Linked DNA regions of Homo sapiens: region 2 is linked to region 1. A link means that fine-mapping ties the variant in region 1 to the expression of a gene that starts in the linked region. Tissue or cell type: putamen. Region 1 holds a variant in brackets; the other region holds the start of a gene. All regions are shown on one strand. Distances are from middle to middle.

Region 1 (8,107 bases):
GGGATGAATTAATGATGATTACATAGAAACCTAAGCAAAAGATAAAAACAAGATTAATTCCAAAGGCAACAAAATATTGTGCACGAAAAGTAATCACACAATACTTCATGCTCAGATATAAATCATTTTTATATGGCCATAAAATTATATTGAGAGAATGCGGGAATGAGAAATATGAATAAAGGTAAATCCTCATATACAATAATGGGGAATCAATAGTCATACTTAAAATGATTTTTACAAATCAAGATGTAGCAACATAAGCTTGATTTAAATACATGAAAATATATGCTAAAAGATTCTATTAGAAGGGTTGCAAGTGGTGGCCTCTGTGTGCAGGAACATAGGAGCAGAGGCTTTTCATAGAAATACGTACTTGTGTAGCTTTGATAAAACAGAACCTAAATTTCTATTACATTCTGGGCTTCCAGATATGGAAAATGTTAGGGTCTGGCTCTTACTCTATTTTCCCCACCCCATTTCAAAAGGGCAGCCAGGGTCATTCTCTTGCCTACAGTCAATCTTCTCCCAGGCTCTTGGCTTCCAAAAGTGAGACCTTCAGAAAGCTTTGCTGAGGAGATTGGAGCAGTGAGTGCCTTTGAGTGGAGAACAGAGGCTCACAAAAGTATAGAGGAGGCCGGGCACGGTGGCTCACGCCTGTAGTCCCACCACTTTGGGAGGCCAAGGCGGGCGGATCATGAGGTCAGGAGATCGAGACCATCCTGGCTAACACAGTGAAACCCCGTCTCTACTAAAAATACCAAAAATTAGCCAGGCGTGGTGGCGGGTGCCTGTAGTCACTGCTGCTCGGGAGGCTGAGGCATGGCGTGAACCGGGGAGGCAAAGCTTACAGTGAGCCGAGATTGCACCACTGCACTCCAGCCTGGGCGACAGAGCGAGACTCCATCTCAAAAAAAAGAAAAAAGTATAGAGGAGAGAGGATTTCTATAGCACAAGAGGTGATGAGATCTGAGAGGTCCTGTGAGTGTCCTGTCACTGGAGCTCCTAGGCAAAGCAACGATTTTGGAATCAAGCTTGCTATGGAAGCTTCAGATCTCCCCGAACTAAGATATTTTGTGGACTTGGATGATGAGAACATCAACAGTGCCCATGAGAGCCTGAGGAAATAGATCTCAACCCCAATTCCCCAGCTCCACTTAATAGTCTAATATTTCCTTGACATTCTGTGAATTACAAGTGTTCTATATAACTATGGTATTAGTGTCATTATTACTAATTATAATACCAAACAAGAGGGCTGAATAGTTTTTATTTAGTGACCATTAAACCTGTTTTAGAGAAAATTCTGCCTGCCTATATATAATCTTCTGGACTATCTTGTACCAGAATATATTAATATATGGCTAGCAAGAGTCACGCTCCACTTCATCAGCTCTTATTCAGTAAGTGGAATGATCAAAGAAAAGATTATCATGCCCCTGAAAACAACCTGGATATTTATCAAATTTCCCATATTCCTGGATTTGGGGCTTTGCACGTGTTTTCCTGGCTTCCTGAACCAATCTTACCCCACTCGCTGAAGAATTGCAGCTTCTCACTGCAGCTTAAATGTTACCCTATACCTAGGTTTTCCAGGACCGGAATCACTCTGTCCTAAGTTCACTGTTGCTCTCAGCTGAGCTACTCAACATGTCAGACAAGCTCTAATTATTTTGTGTATTCATTTATCTCTCTCCCTACTCAAAAGCCATTTCCAGGCAACCAAAGGCCTTGCCTGTCCTTTTCACACTGTATCCAGGGACTTGGTAGGTGCTCAATGAATATTTATTGATTTTAAAAGTAAATGAGTTCACAGCTAACAAAATGAGGTAACCTCCTGATTTTCTGGTTGTATTTCAAAGTTCATAGTTAAAATGTCAATAGTGGTAGCTGTCTTACTTAGTTACCACAAGCATGTGACTGAGCACTCTGTTCTTTGCATACTAAAAGAAGCAGTTGAACTTTAAAGCCTACTATACAGATAAGAGCTCCTGTATCCTAGACTATGCTTTCCTAAATTCCAAAACTGAGAGCCACAGTGTTCATCATTCACCATGTGCCAGCCATTCTGCCAAAGTAGGAATTGATAGAGCAAAGAGCAAAAATATGAATAAACTATTACTATCATTTATTGAGCTTTTGCTGCATACAGGGTACTTACTATATTTGTCATCCTCAAAACAACTCTGAGAAGGAGCTGTTTCTTTTTTAATCTGACTCTAAAACAAGAAAACAGAGACTCAGAAGAGTCTTGTCTGAAGAATACACAGCAAGTAATTATCCGAGTGTTGAAGATGAAAACTCAGGTCTGTCACTTCTAATGCTGGTGCTCTTTCCACCCTAAAATGCCATTTCGAGAATCTACATTTGTACCTCTTCACACAGGATCAAACTACAGAAGCTAAAATTGTGCCATTATAACAACACAGCCCTTTTATAAAGAGAAAAGCTAGGAAACCAATTCCTTTAGTTTGTTGTCAAGAAGTTTAAAGAAATATTTTTGCTCATGGAGCACTTACACAATTTTATATAATGATTCTGAGAATCATGATTCAATCACTGAGGTTTCAGCATAAATCAAGAGGGAAAATGATAATAAATGTCTGTGAGCTAATAATGGAAAACTACTAAAGTCTTCAAGAGATTACAGGTTAGCAGGAAAAGATGTGAAATGTAAATGACACTTCATTTACTGTAAGAACAAGGAACAAATGTTCAGAATAATTTCTTTCCACCAAGAATTCCTAATGAAATGTTGAGATCAATGTCTAGCAGGGTATTGAAACAGGACATGGAATAGATGTTAAAATAAGTCAAACTGAATGAAGTAAGTTAGAGGAAACAGAGCTACATGATTCTTTGTCTTTGATTTCAAGAACAAAGAATTACTTTTTTTTCTTCTTTTCGAAGCAGCAGTCTTTTATTAGTCATGATGAAAATGTCAAATTCTTCAGGTAGAGTTACAGCTCCAACAGGTGTTGGACAAAAACAAAAATAATCTCCCTCTAAAAAACCATAATAATAATTCTTAAAATTTTCTCTCTTAATTTTCTTGATAAACCTATCAGAATAACAATTAATACATTAAATTTCAAGTGTGTATATAAATTATTATTCTGATAGGTATATCAAGCAAATTGAGAGAGAAAATTTTAAGAATTCTTTATTCATTATAATATATCCTCAATTTTCTATGTTAAAAAATTATAATCACATTTTTCTAATTATAAAATACATGCTCATTATTTGAAACTGGAAAAATAAGAAGCCCTCCCACAATCCCATCAACCATGTTTTTGTTTGTTTTTACAAATAAAAGTATGTTTACATGTTACTTATGTCATACGTACATGCTCAATTTTAGAATGCTCATAATATTTTCTCTACTCTGTGCTTTGGGTGGTAAGTAGGGTGTTCCAGGAAGATACTGATTTTATGTAATTATTTCTTGAATTAAGGCGGATTTTATTCAACATATGGTTGTACATGATTTGATTCACATGGCTTTGTAAAGTTTCTCATATAAATACATTTGGGAGTCTTTTGCTGGATGTTTTCATATTGAGTTCAAAAACCATGCTACTAAAATCCTACAACTATAATCATACTGCCTGTGTTATCAGAGACACCCTCTTGCTGGTCTTATCCAGCAATACATAAGTTTAGGCTATAGAAACTCCCTTTGGTGACACCCCACCTCTCAGCACTGATCCTTTTCTCATTGTTCAATAGCCATCCACAGAAAAATTGATTTTAGATTCCTGAATTGTGACTCTCTGGGAAAAGCAAGTGGTTACCTTTGTGCAGTCTTCTTTACTATCATTAACAGCTTCTCATGATGTCATAACCCTTAGTCTTTTTTTTTTGACGGAGATATATAGGTACCCCAAACCTTGGAAAAGAGGGACCATCCACAGAGGGCACTTTCACAGCTCAGCAAGGTCTTGGATGAAGTTGGAGAGAGTCATTCTGTTGAGCCTGCCCTCCTTTCTGTGGGCACCCAAATATGACCCTCTCCTGTCTGGCACCACCAAACTCCACAAGGTAACTTCTCCTCCTTCCCTCCAGACCATGCCCCAGCCCAGGAACTCTTCTCCAGAAGTGAGACAGAGAACTGTTTCAAATTAACTGTGTGGCATAAAGTTTGCACCATGCTTCCCTCAAATCTTCCTTTTGGGTATCAAAAGCCCATTTTGAAGGTCAAAAAACAAAAAGAAAAAGAAAAGCTCGCTGGTATTTTTCACCCTTTTAGTCCTGCTTCCCCTGGTGGAAAGGCCAAGTGCAATGGGGTAGAGAAAGGAAAGCACAATGGTGATATTCCAAAACGTCGTCACATCATTATCATTGAATTATCTGTCTGCTCTCCAATGAGTGTGGGCAACTTGAAGGCAGAATCTCTATACCTGAGGCCTGCACCCCAGTGCTGAGTGTCACTTCTAGAACATTGCAGCCTCAGGAACTCCTCGCTAAGTGGACACACATGTGAGCTATTACTATTTTTGATTATCAGATATGGAGATATTTGACTGCAATAC[G/A]TGGTATTCTTAACAACTTCCAACAGTGCAAAGTTTCAATCAAGCAGAAAAACAGTTTACTTCCAACTGGAATACTGGAGTACCTCGTGTAAACTGTTGAATTAAACAGATTTATGATAGTTCTGCAAAGTGAAAGTTTATAAGGTGTTTTAAAGAAACTGATATCACAGACCATATAATTTCCATAGCATTTAAATGTAAGACTGTAATTTCCCTGCATCTGATGATGATGTAAGTGCAGGCATTGAACACTCCGCCTTCCACCCTCAGACACATGAGATGACCAGTGGATATAAAATTAGGGAAAAACCAGCATCAGTGTTGGAAAGTAGGAAGGGTGCCATACATATGCCTGCCACACCAGGGAGTATATATTTCATGTAGGCTGATGGTAATGAACCTAAGATACCATTCAGACTCTATTTATGATTGTCCCTGTGACAAAGAAAGTGGCAAGGGAGTGGAGGGACCTAGACAATTTATGTCAGACCAATTAATTTGAAAAGGGTAAAAGAGATATTGGAAAAGGAAAATCCAATGATCAAAATGCCATTCTGAGGCTAGGCTTTTTCTTAAGCCAGGAAAGCTTCCAGAAGAAATTGCTCACAAGAGAAGCAAGAGACCACTATAAGATTGGAAGGCCACCCAAACAGGGCCACCTTGGGGATCCTAGGTAAAGAAAAGATACTGCAGGTCCAAATAAGAAGATCATCTTGAAGAGACAGAAATGCTTCTTTTGAAATAATTACTCTAACAAATAAGCACACAAATATGCTAATTTGCATCTCAGAAAGATTCCAGCGTTTTTCTGAACCAGTCACTGATAATAGAGTCATCAGTGGAAGAAAAAAAGGAAAAAAAAAAAAAACAACCGTAATTGTCCACCAAAAGTTCATGGTTCCCCTTCCATGATTATTCTGGGTGCCACCTGCCCCTTCCTTCAGGGTACAGCTATATGAACAGTTCTTGCCAAAGACACATGAGCAGAAGTGAAGATCTCTTCTGAAATGGGGTTTTGAAGAAGAAAGTGTGCCTTCCCCACCACATATTTCCATTTTGGCTGGCTGGAGAGGGAGGGCTCAGGGGTCCTCAGGGATGGAAGGAAACTGAGACCCTGAATCATCACATGAAAGGAGAAAAACTTCTGTTTGTTAAGTTGAATGTTGGGGGACTGTTGGTGTGGTAGATTGCTTAATGGCTGCAAATTCCTCCCCTCCCAGGCTACCTGCACCTTTGCGATATGACTTTGCTGCACCTTCTGTCCAGAAGTGGAAGAAAACTGCCTGGCCTCATGACTTGTTTACACCAGTGGAATGTGGCAGGAGTGACATTGTGTGTGGAGCTCAGGCCTTGAGCTCCTGACCTCACCTCTTGAAAACCTTCCCTTCACCAAGTAAGGAGACTAGGGAAGTTAAAAGAATGGATAGAGAAAGACGCTGTGACATCCAGTACCAGCCCCAGACTGTGTGTAAGGCCACTTTAGACCCCTAGCCCTGTAAGCCACTGATGACTGCAGCCATCAGAGTGAGCCTAGGAGAAACCAGAAGAACTACAGAATTGTAAACCTCAGGGGAAAATAGCATTTAAAAATACAATAGAGATAAGACCTCAGCTAGTCATAGATGCCCCTGTGTTGCAAACTTCCAGAAAAAAAAAAAAATGCGGTAATCTCTGGAGTATTTTTAGGGGAAAAGATGTGACAATAGATTCTATAACTAAACAATTACTCTGTGTAATGTGGCTGACAAAAATTGTACCCAAGGATATAAGACATGTTAATTATATCATCTATATATGCTTCCGGGAAGCATATATGGATAAAATTACTTGAAGATTTAACCAAGACATAAACCAAAATTTTAAAATTTAAATTGGAGGTTGTGGCCAAAAGCCTCAGTGGTACAAATGAAACTAAATAAAGAGTTGTTTAAATAACTATAAATATAGTTTCATAAATTAATACAGATGGTTTTAACAATTCTTAAAAGAGAAGCTGTGTGATGAAAATGATAATCATTTGGGCCAGAGTCACAAATTACTATCAATAAAAATTAGAACATGTGGGAAAGCTCTAGACAAGTATATTACATTACTTACACAATGGAAATAAGTATAGTTTAATTTTCAGCATCACCAATTAAAGAAAATATATTCAAAATTTTAAAGAAATTAAAGGAAAAAAGACTAAATAAAAAGATTGCAACTTCTATTTTTATTACTAAGACTTTTTAAGCAATGTATACTCACTTTAGTGATTTCTTAATAAATTGTATATAAATATATGTACTATTGTATATACATGGATATGTGCATATATTATACAATAAAATCATTAAAAAGATGAACTTGAAATAACACTAGTTTAAAATAAATTTATTGTATTTATTAACAACACAAACAACATTTTTCTTTCTTTCACTGAAATAATAGTAACATTCAGTGAGAGCAGAATGTTTAAATTTTTCAATGTTTTTGAAACTGTTGGTTACATATCTTGCAATATAGCAACCCAAAGGTATGATTCTGGGTCAATTTTTATTTCAAACTTGGTTTTCATGGCTGTAGTAACTGAATAAGATCCTTCACAGAGAGAGAAACGCAAGGGAAAGAAGTGTGTCATTGGCTGTACTTAATAATCATGACATTTATAATCGATTCCACCCATCAATTATGTAATTGTTCTTGTTGAAATTTGGTAGTAAGTTTCCATCTTCCATGATCAATTGTTCTTGAAAAGGAATCAGTACATGTTATAGTTTTTTGCCTCAACAAAGGGTTTAAAATTCTCTAAAAACTTTCAAAGATTATAAAAATTCTATTTTAAATCCTTTAAGTGTGTTGATACCACAGATTATTTTTTATAGGTGTAACATTTCTATCGTTTTCAGCAATGTATCACATAGCAATGGAAACACTGAGAAACATTTCCAAACATCCGTTTTGAAAATGCTCTCTATTACCTCATAATGTGGCTGATGGAGCACTCCTGCCAGGAAAATGGAAAGCATTAGCTGGGCCTTTTGGGGTGGGGGTGGGAGGGAGGGGGTGGGGAGACAGACGGGTTGTCATTATTGTTCTTGTCTGTATCATGGGCATTACTTTTAACCTGCTTCTTTTTTTTGGAATTATCTTAAGATTCTTGTAAATTTTGACAGCTTACATAAAAGCAAATTAAATAACTCTTAAATCCACCTAACTGGGCACACAAACTTCAGTGAGTCAAAAGTTTGCAGAATGTAAAAGTGTCATTGTCATTCACCCCCACCCTCTGGAAATCACTCCCTTCCACCTTGCTTACTATCAATAAACAGAGAGCATCTGTCTTACTTGTGGACCTGCGTGAAGAACCAGTGACAATTTATATTAAATGAGTCAAGTTTAATATCAATCTTAATTTTGAAATGTAAAAACTAGTATTTCCTTCTGGGACTCCAATTAATGTTCTATGCATTCCACTTTGGAGAACAAAGCTATAGCAAATAAACCAGTATGGAAGCATTATGGAAAGAAGGCTGCAGAAATGAGACCAAGTGTACCAATTGTGACAACAAATACAAATAATCAGAAATTAA
Region 2 (8,107 bases), 830 kb after region 1:
TACCCTTAAAGGACTTCCAGATTAGTAGAGTGGTAAGTTATATATCCACATACCGTCCAAGGTAGATGGGGGAAGGATATAGGAAGATGACTAAACTTCTGCCCTTTGCCCCATGTTCTGTCCTTCTTTCTACCTCTCTGGCTCTTTCCCAAGAAAAATTGTGATCAGAACTCAATGGTCAGAAAATCCTTGATTGAGCCACATTTTACGAGTAGTCAGATGACTATGCCTTAAAGATAAGTGACCATAAATGATGTTCTGTCTTTTCCTTCTTAGGCAGGGTATGGCTCCAAGGGTCAGGCGGTTAACATCATCCATGTAGCTGGCTGGATTAAGACTGAGGGTCTGCTTCCCAAACCTGGCCATCTTAGCAGCAGGGAGAAGCAAGCTTCATTTGGGACTTAACCCTTAGCCAACATCCAACTCAGTTTTGTTTGTTTTTCCCCAAAGAACCCTCAGAAGTGAGCATTTGCCCATAATCAAATGGTAATCTGTTTCACATTCTATCATTGCTCTGAATATATAGACTCTGGGTTAAGAACCTCAAGGGAAAGAAGTATGAGTGGTAGGATTCAAGCACTAAGATCCTATCTGAACTCCTGACCATAGACAGCAAAGAGGGTCACGGCAGACTGTGTGCTGTGGAAGAATATCTTCTGTGGGAGAAGGAGAAAATCAGGGAAGGCTTCCTGAAAGAGGTGACATTTGAGCTGAGACTGTAAGCATGAGTAGTATAGGCTTAGACAGTGGGACCCTCAAAGAATTCTGAACACTAGCATAACTTAAGTTTTTAAAAATGACCATGTTAGGGGGTGATCATTTTCTTGAGACAGCAAATTAGCCAGCATCCTGCCTCTGGATTTGAGGGTTTTGGGCAATCTGGATACTGGGGAAATAGTCTCTGGGTAGGGTAGGTAATGGTCAGTAGGCTCTCTCTCAGTTTCAGTGGATTTCCATTCCCACCTCCACTATTCAAATTCCTTTTTTTCTGATTTTTGAACTCAGTTTCATGACTATTTGAGACATAAGAAGGGGGTACCCTGCACAGAGGGAACAAGTAGCCTAGTCACTAGAAATGGACAACCTCAAGTGTATTGATAGAATAAGTCAAAGGCATTACCGGCACTTCTTCACTTGCCACGTCCTCCAAGGTCAGTCAGGTTCCCTCCTTCCTTCTCCACTGAATCTGTCCTAGGAGAGTTCCACCCATAACCTCTCATCTCCTGAAACCATCGATAATTTTGAGCCTTCATGCTATCAGGCCACACCTTGGTAGGAAACAGGCTCTTTTCCTTTGCCTTCTGGGACACCCCTCTCTCCTGGTTCTTCTTCCCTCTCTCTGGCAACCCCTCCTCAGCCCCCGCTTTTAAGGCAATGTCACTGTTTATTTCTAAGCGTCTTGGGAAAGTCTCTATTCAGGACCCACAGGGATGAAGCCTAGGCCCAGGGTAATCTAGCAGAGGCACTGCCTCTGATAGCCCCACGCCACTTACATCTCAACTAGCACCCACCGGATGGTGGTAGAATCTGTATGCAAAGAGGAAATGAAACTGTCAGAGAGAAGAGGGTAGGAGAAGAATGGAGAGTAAAAGCTCAGGGTGAGGGAAGGGGAGATATGGTTGTAAAAGGAAGTTGAGCCAGGGAGGACATTTCAGATAAAGCAGTTGAATATTCATTCAGGGAGCAGGTTGATTTTTTTTTTTTTTTTTTGAGACCGAGTCTCACTCTGTTGTCCAGGATGGAGTGCAATGATGCAATCTCAGCTCACTGCAACCTCCCCACCTCCTGGGTTCAAGCAATTCTCCTGCCTCAGCCTCCTGAGTAGCTGGGATTACAGGCGTGCACCACCACGCCCGGCTAATTTTGTATTTTTAGTAGAGACGGGGTTTCACCATGTTGGCCAGGCTAGTCTCGAACTCCTGACCTCCTGATCCACCCACCTCAGCCTCCCAAAGTGCTGGGATTACAGTCGTGAAGCACCACGCCCGGCCCCATCACAGACTTTTGAGTGCAATGCCAACAGGTTAGAGGCAGACTTCAGGAGGGTTAAACCAGTTTTATGTGCAGAATGGTGGGGGCGCGAAGCAGACACACTAGGGATCGGTACAAAGCCCTGCTGCCTGCTATGTGATCACCTCACCTAAATGCCTTCCCTCTTCTGTGTCACTGAAGTCTTTCCTACTTCATGGCTTGACTCTATAAAAGCTGTCCTTGATGGCTGTGGCCCACCTGATGTCCACATTCATAAAACTTTCTGGACTATACAATGAACATATCATTCTCTCTGCAGAGAGACTCAAAGGACGTACAGAATCTGAGCTTATCCTTCATTTGTTAGATGCATGAGCCCAATCAGAATACAAGTTCTCACATACCACATTTAAGTCACCTGGCAGCACTAGGCTGTGTACAGTGTAAAGATACATTAGATGCTTTCAGAAACAGACGGGCTTCGGAATATTTATTCTTTTCCAGAGTGACAGATTCCGCCACATGGCTCTCCAGCTAGAAGACTACATTTCTTAGTCTCCCTTGAAGCTAGGTCATTGTAACTATGTTTTTGCCAAAGGAATGTGAACAGCAGTAATGTGGGCAGCCAGCCTAAAAGGTAACTACTTGCCCTGAACTTCTCTTTTTCTTTCCCTCAATCTTGAACAAGGACATGCAACCTGGCTTCTACTGTACTGATGAGGACAAAGCCTCAGGGGGATGGCAGAGCAACAAGATGGAAAGAACCCGGGTCCCTGAATGACCTTGCGGAACAGAGTCATCCCACCAGCCCCAGACCAACCAGACTCTTATCAGAGAGAAAAATAAACTAGCTTATTTAAACCACTATATGTTAAAATCTCTAATTCAGCAGTTAAGCCTCTACTTAATACATTTCCCCAAATCCATTCTCTCCATCTTCTTTAATACAATAATTCTGATTTTTGAACTGGGCATATTATGTCTCAGCTAATAGGCTCTATTTTACATCCTCCTTTGTACCTATGTGCAACCATATGATTAAGTTGTGGCCAAAGAAGTATAAAAATTGTTATATGAAACTTCCGAGTAATCCCTTTATAAAGTAGTCAGTGACCTTCTTCCTGCTTCATTTTTCCCACTGTCTAGAATGTGAACATAATGGCTGTAGCTCAAGCAGTTATTTTGAACCATGAAGTTACATGCTAAGAATTGTGAAGAAACAGAAGGGCAGGATCCAGAGACACTGGTGACCAAGGAGCCTCCAGACCAGTTCTGGATTACCTATTTCTAGTTTTCTTTCTGTAAGAGAGAAACTTCTATCTTGTTGAAGCTATTAATGTTTGCTTGTTGTATACAGCTGAACTTAATCCTAACAACAGACACATCCACTAACAGATATGAGCTCCTGGGACTCAACACTTCAAACCCCAGCTTGATGGTTGGATATCCCTCTTAGCAGAAGAAAAGGAAAGTCACTACTTCCCAAAGTTGCTTAAAGAGGCCAGTTTCCATTCCTTCTGACCACCATCCGCTTGGCTTTTGTGCTCGTTGAAGCAGCTCTACAGGGAGGCCCTTGGCTGACAAACTCCCAGTCTGCGGGCCCAGCAGGCCACAACAATGGTGGCTCGCACTAGGGGACCATAACATATGTGGCGTCATAAAAGAGGAGGGATGGGAGTGGGGAGGCTGATGTGACCCAGCTCTGACGGGTCAGTGAGCAGGAACAGAATGCTACGAGGTGGGCGCTGGTCACTGCAAATTTAAGTCAATACAGACAGGGAGGAAATAAGGCAACCTCTCTCTTTAGGTTGGGGTTTTTCTGCTTCCCCCTAGCTGCCCTGGCCAGATGGCGGCCTCCTCCCCTATAACCCAACCCCAGGCGGCAAAGGTGGAAGCCAGATCTAAGAACTGGGGGAGCTTAGACTCAGCACCCACCCCTATCCACAGCCTTGCAGAACTTGGATGACCCCTCCCTCTCCCAGCCTCACTCTCCCCATCTGTAAAGCGGGCGGCAGGCATTGACAGCTCTTTGGGCCTTTCCTCCAGGCCGGCGGAGGCCTGGGCACTGCGCTCCCCATCCTGGCCTCGCCTCTGCAAGAGCTGCCTCCACGGACATCTTTTCCGACCCCCTCCCCCTCCCTCGCCCCCTCTCCTCGTTCCCCCGATCCTCGGTCCCCCACCCCCGGTCTCCCCTCCCGCAACCCCTCGCCCTCCCGCAGCCTCACCCTCCTCCGACAGGTAGCGCAGGTCGTAGAACTCCCCCGCGAAGGTGCCGTAGGAGGAGTCGTGGCGCGGCACCGCCTCGTCGGCGCCCGTGTCCCCCCGCGCGCGTCCCCGGGGTCCCCGGCCCCCCGGGCCCGCACCGTCGTCCGCGGGGCTGGCTGCGCAGGCGGCGGGCCCCGTCAGTAGCAGCAGGAGCAGCGACGCCCAGACCCCCGGGTGCTGCCGGGGCGGCCGCGCCATCCGTGCGCACAGATCCCGCAGCCAGGCCGCTCGGGCCGCAGCGGGGGCGCCGCGGGCGCGGGCCGGGACTGAGCCTCCGCCGAGGCCACCAGCACGCGCCCGCGCAGCCGCGGAGCCTCCCGCACCCCCGCCTCCCTGCCTCGGTCTGCGCATCCTCGCTCCAGCACCGCAGCCTCCCCCTTCTTCTTGGAACCCCCCTCCTCCCCGCACCGATCTCTCCTTCCTAGCAGCTTCCCTTCTACCGTCCTTCTTTCCATTCTCCCCATCTCCCCGACTTCCCTCCACGCAGGCAGATTTGGCCCTTCTGGCCCCTTGCTACTCCGGAGTGTGGTCCGCGGACCGGCAGCATCAGCATCACCTGGAAGCTTGTTAGCATCGCTGAGGCCCCACTCCAGACCCATGAAGCGGGATGTTCATTTCATCAAAATTCCCAGGAGATCCCAATGCACGTTCAATTTATGAAACGCTCCTCTAGAGAGTTTACCCTGGACACACCTGGTCAGTGCTGCCTCCTCAACCTTGTGCCGGCACTTTTTGGTTTACATAAAGCACTTGCTAGACCTATTATTTCTTGGATCATCACAGAAGGAACTTGAAATTGCAAGACCCCCACAATAGAGCTAGGTAAACTGAGGTGTTTAGAGACAGAGAAAACTGGATTCACCTGCTTCCTCTCCAGGCTCTTGCGGTGTGTAATCAACAGAGGCTGGTGCCAGTAGGTAACCTGTTCCCCTTCAAAACTAGGCTTCTGGTTTACTCTCTTTCCCTGCAGCAAGCACGCGCAGGCCTTGGAAGGCCCACACCGTATCTGAGGGCCATGCTGAATTGTTGATTTTTCTCAAATCCATTCCTGCTGCTTGCAGTTCACTTTTGGCTATTTACTCAGCCATCCATTGATTCACACCAAGCATTTGCTTTATGGCAGGTCCCAGGGTTCTCTTTTGATGATGGTTGTTGGGGTGATATATTCGAATTGCTAAGCTGTTTTCCATCAGAGAGGCGGACGCAATTCCTTTCAGGCTGGTGTTGCAGAGCCAGCATTTTAACCTGCTTTTCCTATTTTATTATTTTATTTTATTGCATAAACAAAATAATTATGGAGGCAGAAAAGCATAGAGGTCCCAAATGCAGACCTAGAAGTCAGACTGCCTGATCTCTCATGATTAGTCATTGACATGATGCAATGAAGATTAGGGAAGATCATAGAGGTAAGGATCAATAGGGTTCAGTGCTGTAAGTGGCATGCACACATGTACACAATATTGTGAAATGTTAATATTCAAAAGGAAACTAGTGATCTTAACCCTTTATGGCCTGATTGGCTGAGAGATAAGGGTAGTGCTGTTGAAACAGGGGAGACATGATGGGGGACTTAGAAGTCAGGTATTTTCTATTAGGTATCAGCTAACAGTGGGCTGTCCAACTGGAATTTAAACATATTAATCCTGATGGCTGAATTGAGGTGTAATTCATGAAAACCTTGGGCTTCACTAGGTCCCCCAACATAGCAGTTGTCACAAAAAATAGATCAGATTATTTGAAAAAGGTAAGATGAACTATGATTACTTTAAAAACTCAAGAGACTTCTTCCCAAAAAGCATAGCGTGGCAATGCATAACATTCTAAAAAAGCTGATCCAACAGATTGAAAATCTGTTAAAGTGTAGTCCTTCAAAAAAAAAAAAAAAAACAAAAACAAAAACAAAAACCTTAAACCTTTCTTAAAAATTAAAATTTCTTTATTTTCTTTTCTTCTCTTTCTGTTCACCAGGGAAGGTATGGTCAACTTAGAATGGACCAAAGTTTAGCCAAAAAAATAAAGCATTAGACTTTTGATTTCAGTGTAGATTCTCTGGTTTGGGAATACAAGCTTTTACCTCTTACTTTCCTTTTTATTCCCTTCATTTTGGTTACTGAAATTAACAATAACGGTGCCCAAATAGAAGGCAAATGAAAACCAGGCCATTCTTCTCCGAGTAAATTAATCTGATATAAAAACACGTGGGCAGCCGGGCACGGTGGCTCACGCCTGTAACTCCAGCACTTTGGGAGGCCGAGGCGGGCGGATCACAAGGTCAGAAGATCGACACCATCCTGGCCAACACGGTGAAATCCCGTCTCTACTGAAAATACAAAAAATTAGCCGGGCATGGTGTCGGGCGCCTGAAGTCCCAGCTACTCGGGAAGCTAAGGCAGGAGAATGGCGTGAACCTGGGAGGCGGAGCTTGCAGTGAGTCGAGATCAGGCCACTGCACTCTAGCCTGGGCGACAGAGCAAGACTCCATCTCAAAAAACAAACAAAAAACAAACAAAAAAACAAAACAAAACAAAAAAAACCACCACCACGTGGGCTTTCTATATTGTTTTTATGGGGGTATTTGGGTATTTTGGGGACGGTTTACAACTACAGCCTAAAATGAAGTTTGCAGGTAAACTGTGGATTTCAATTCTCTCTCTACTCATGTAGACTCACAGGGGGCCACAGATAGGCTTCAGGGGTGATATGAGGACCTTATGAAAGTGCTGGAATAATGTTGTGATGTATGGGTTTTTCTAGGGAGAAAACCCATAGCTTTTTTTATGAATTATTTTTTCCATGTTCAACTTTTTTTTTAATTTACTTTAAGTTCTGGGATACATGTGCAAAATGTACAGGTTTGTTACATAGGTATACATGTGCCATGGTGGTTTGCTGTACCCATCAACCCGTCATCTAGGTTTTAAGCCTGCATGCGTTAGGTATTTGTCCTAATGCTCTCCCTCCCCTTGCCTCACCCCCCACAACATGCCTCGGTGTGTGATGTTCCCCTCCCTGTGTCCATGTGTTCTCACTGTTCAACTCCCACTTATGAGTGAGAACATGCAGTGTTTGGGAAAACCTATAGCTTTTATGGGTCACTCAAGCCTTATGCCTTTTCAGGGCCCAGCAACCTATTCGGCTCCTTCCATTTCATGAGATTCTCTCCCATCCACTCAAATTGCCTTTGGGGATTTTCTTTCTCTTCATGTTTTCTGACACGATTTAAGTCCTGGAAAGAGTGGAGGCAGACCTATTCCAACCTTAAGCACATGCTCCCCTCTTAGTTACATCCTAGGTTTGCAGAGACCCTCTGTTCCCCACCAATGTGACTCTACAGAACAGCTAAGAAATATTGTAGTTTCCTCTACTGTGCAAATTTTCTGGGGAGGAACTTTGCCTGAACATTCTGAGACCACTGGCTGTACAAGAGCTGGCCACTCAAACAAAAACTTAGAGATGAACCAGATTTAAATTCATTTTCATTTTAAAAAGAAAGACAGTACCTTTATTTTCTCTCCACCTCAAAGCAATTTCTCTGACACAACCTTTTTTGCGATTAAAAACTCCCAAAATCATTGCTGCATCTTGGTATCTGATGAGTAACCGATTTGCCCAGGCTTCTGACTGTCTAGTATATATAATTTTTCACTTTGGATTTTGTAAGAAATAAAAGCTGTGATTGTGGCAGTTCCTTAGAAAGTTAAACATGGAGTTTCCATTTGACCCAGCAATTCCAAGAGAATTTAAAACAGATGTTCACACAAAAACTTGTACACAAATGTTCATAACAATATTATTATTATTATTTTCTAAGACGGAGTTTCACTCTTGTTGCCCAGGCTGGAGTGCAACGGTGTAATCTTGGCTCACCGCA

The links. PIP is the estimated chance that this variant, and not a neighbour inherited with it, causes the effect.
Region 2: FRRS1L starts here. The variant in region 1 is fine-mapped to the expression of FRRS1L in putamen (GTEx, PIP 0.99).

The regions. Positions count from the first base shown.
Region 1 is chr9:108,331,966-108,340,072 of GRCh38, forward strand. The region is part of intron 2 of LOC105376214 (a long non-coding RNA gene); the gene reads right to left. Among named protein-coding and RNA genes, the nearest start is that of ACTL7B, 520 kb to the right of the region's middle. The variant G/A (reference allele first, on the strand shown) is at 4,536.
Region 2 is chr9:109,162,705-109,170,811 of GRCh38, forward strand. It overlaps FRRS1L (ferric chelate reductase 1 like), which reads right to left and starts at 4,545. Exons shown (of 5, transcript NM_014334.4): 1 at 4,197-4,545. The coding sequence starts at 4,434.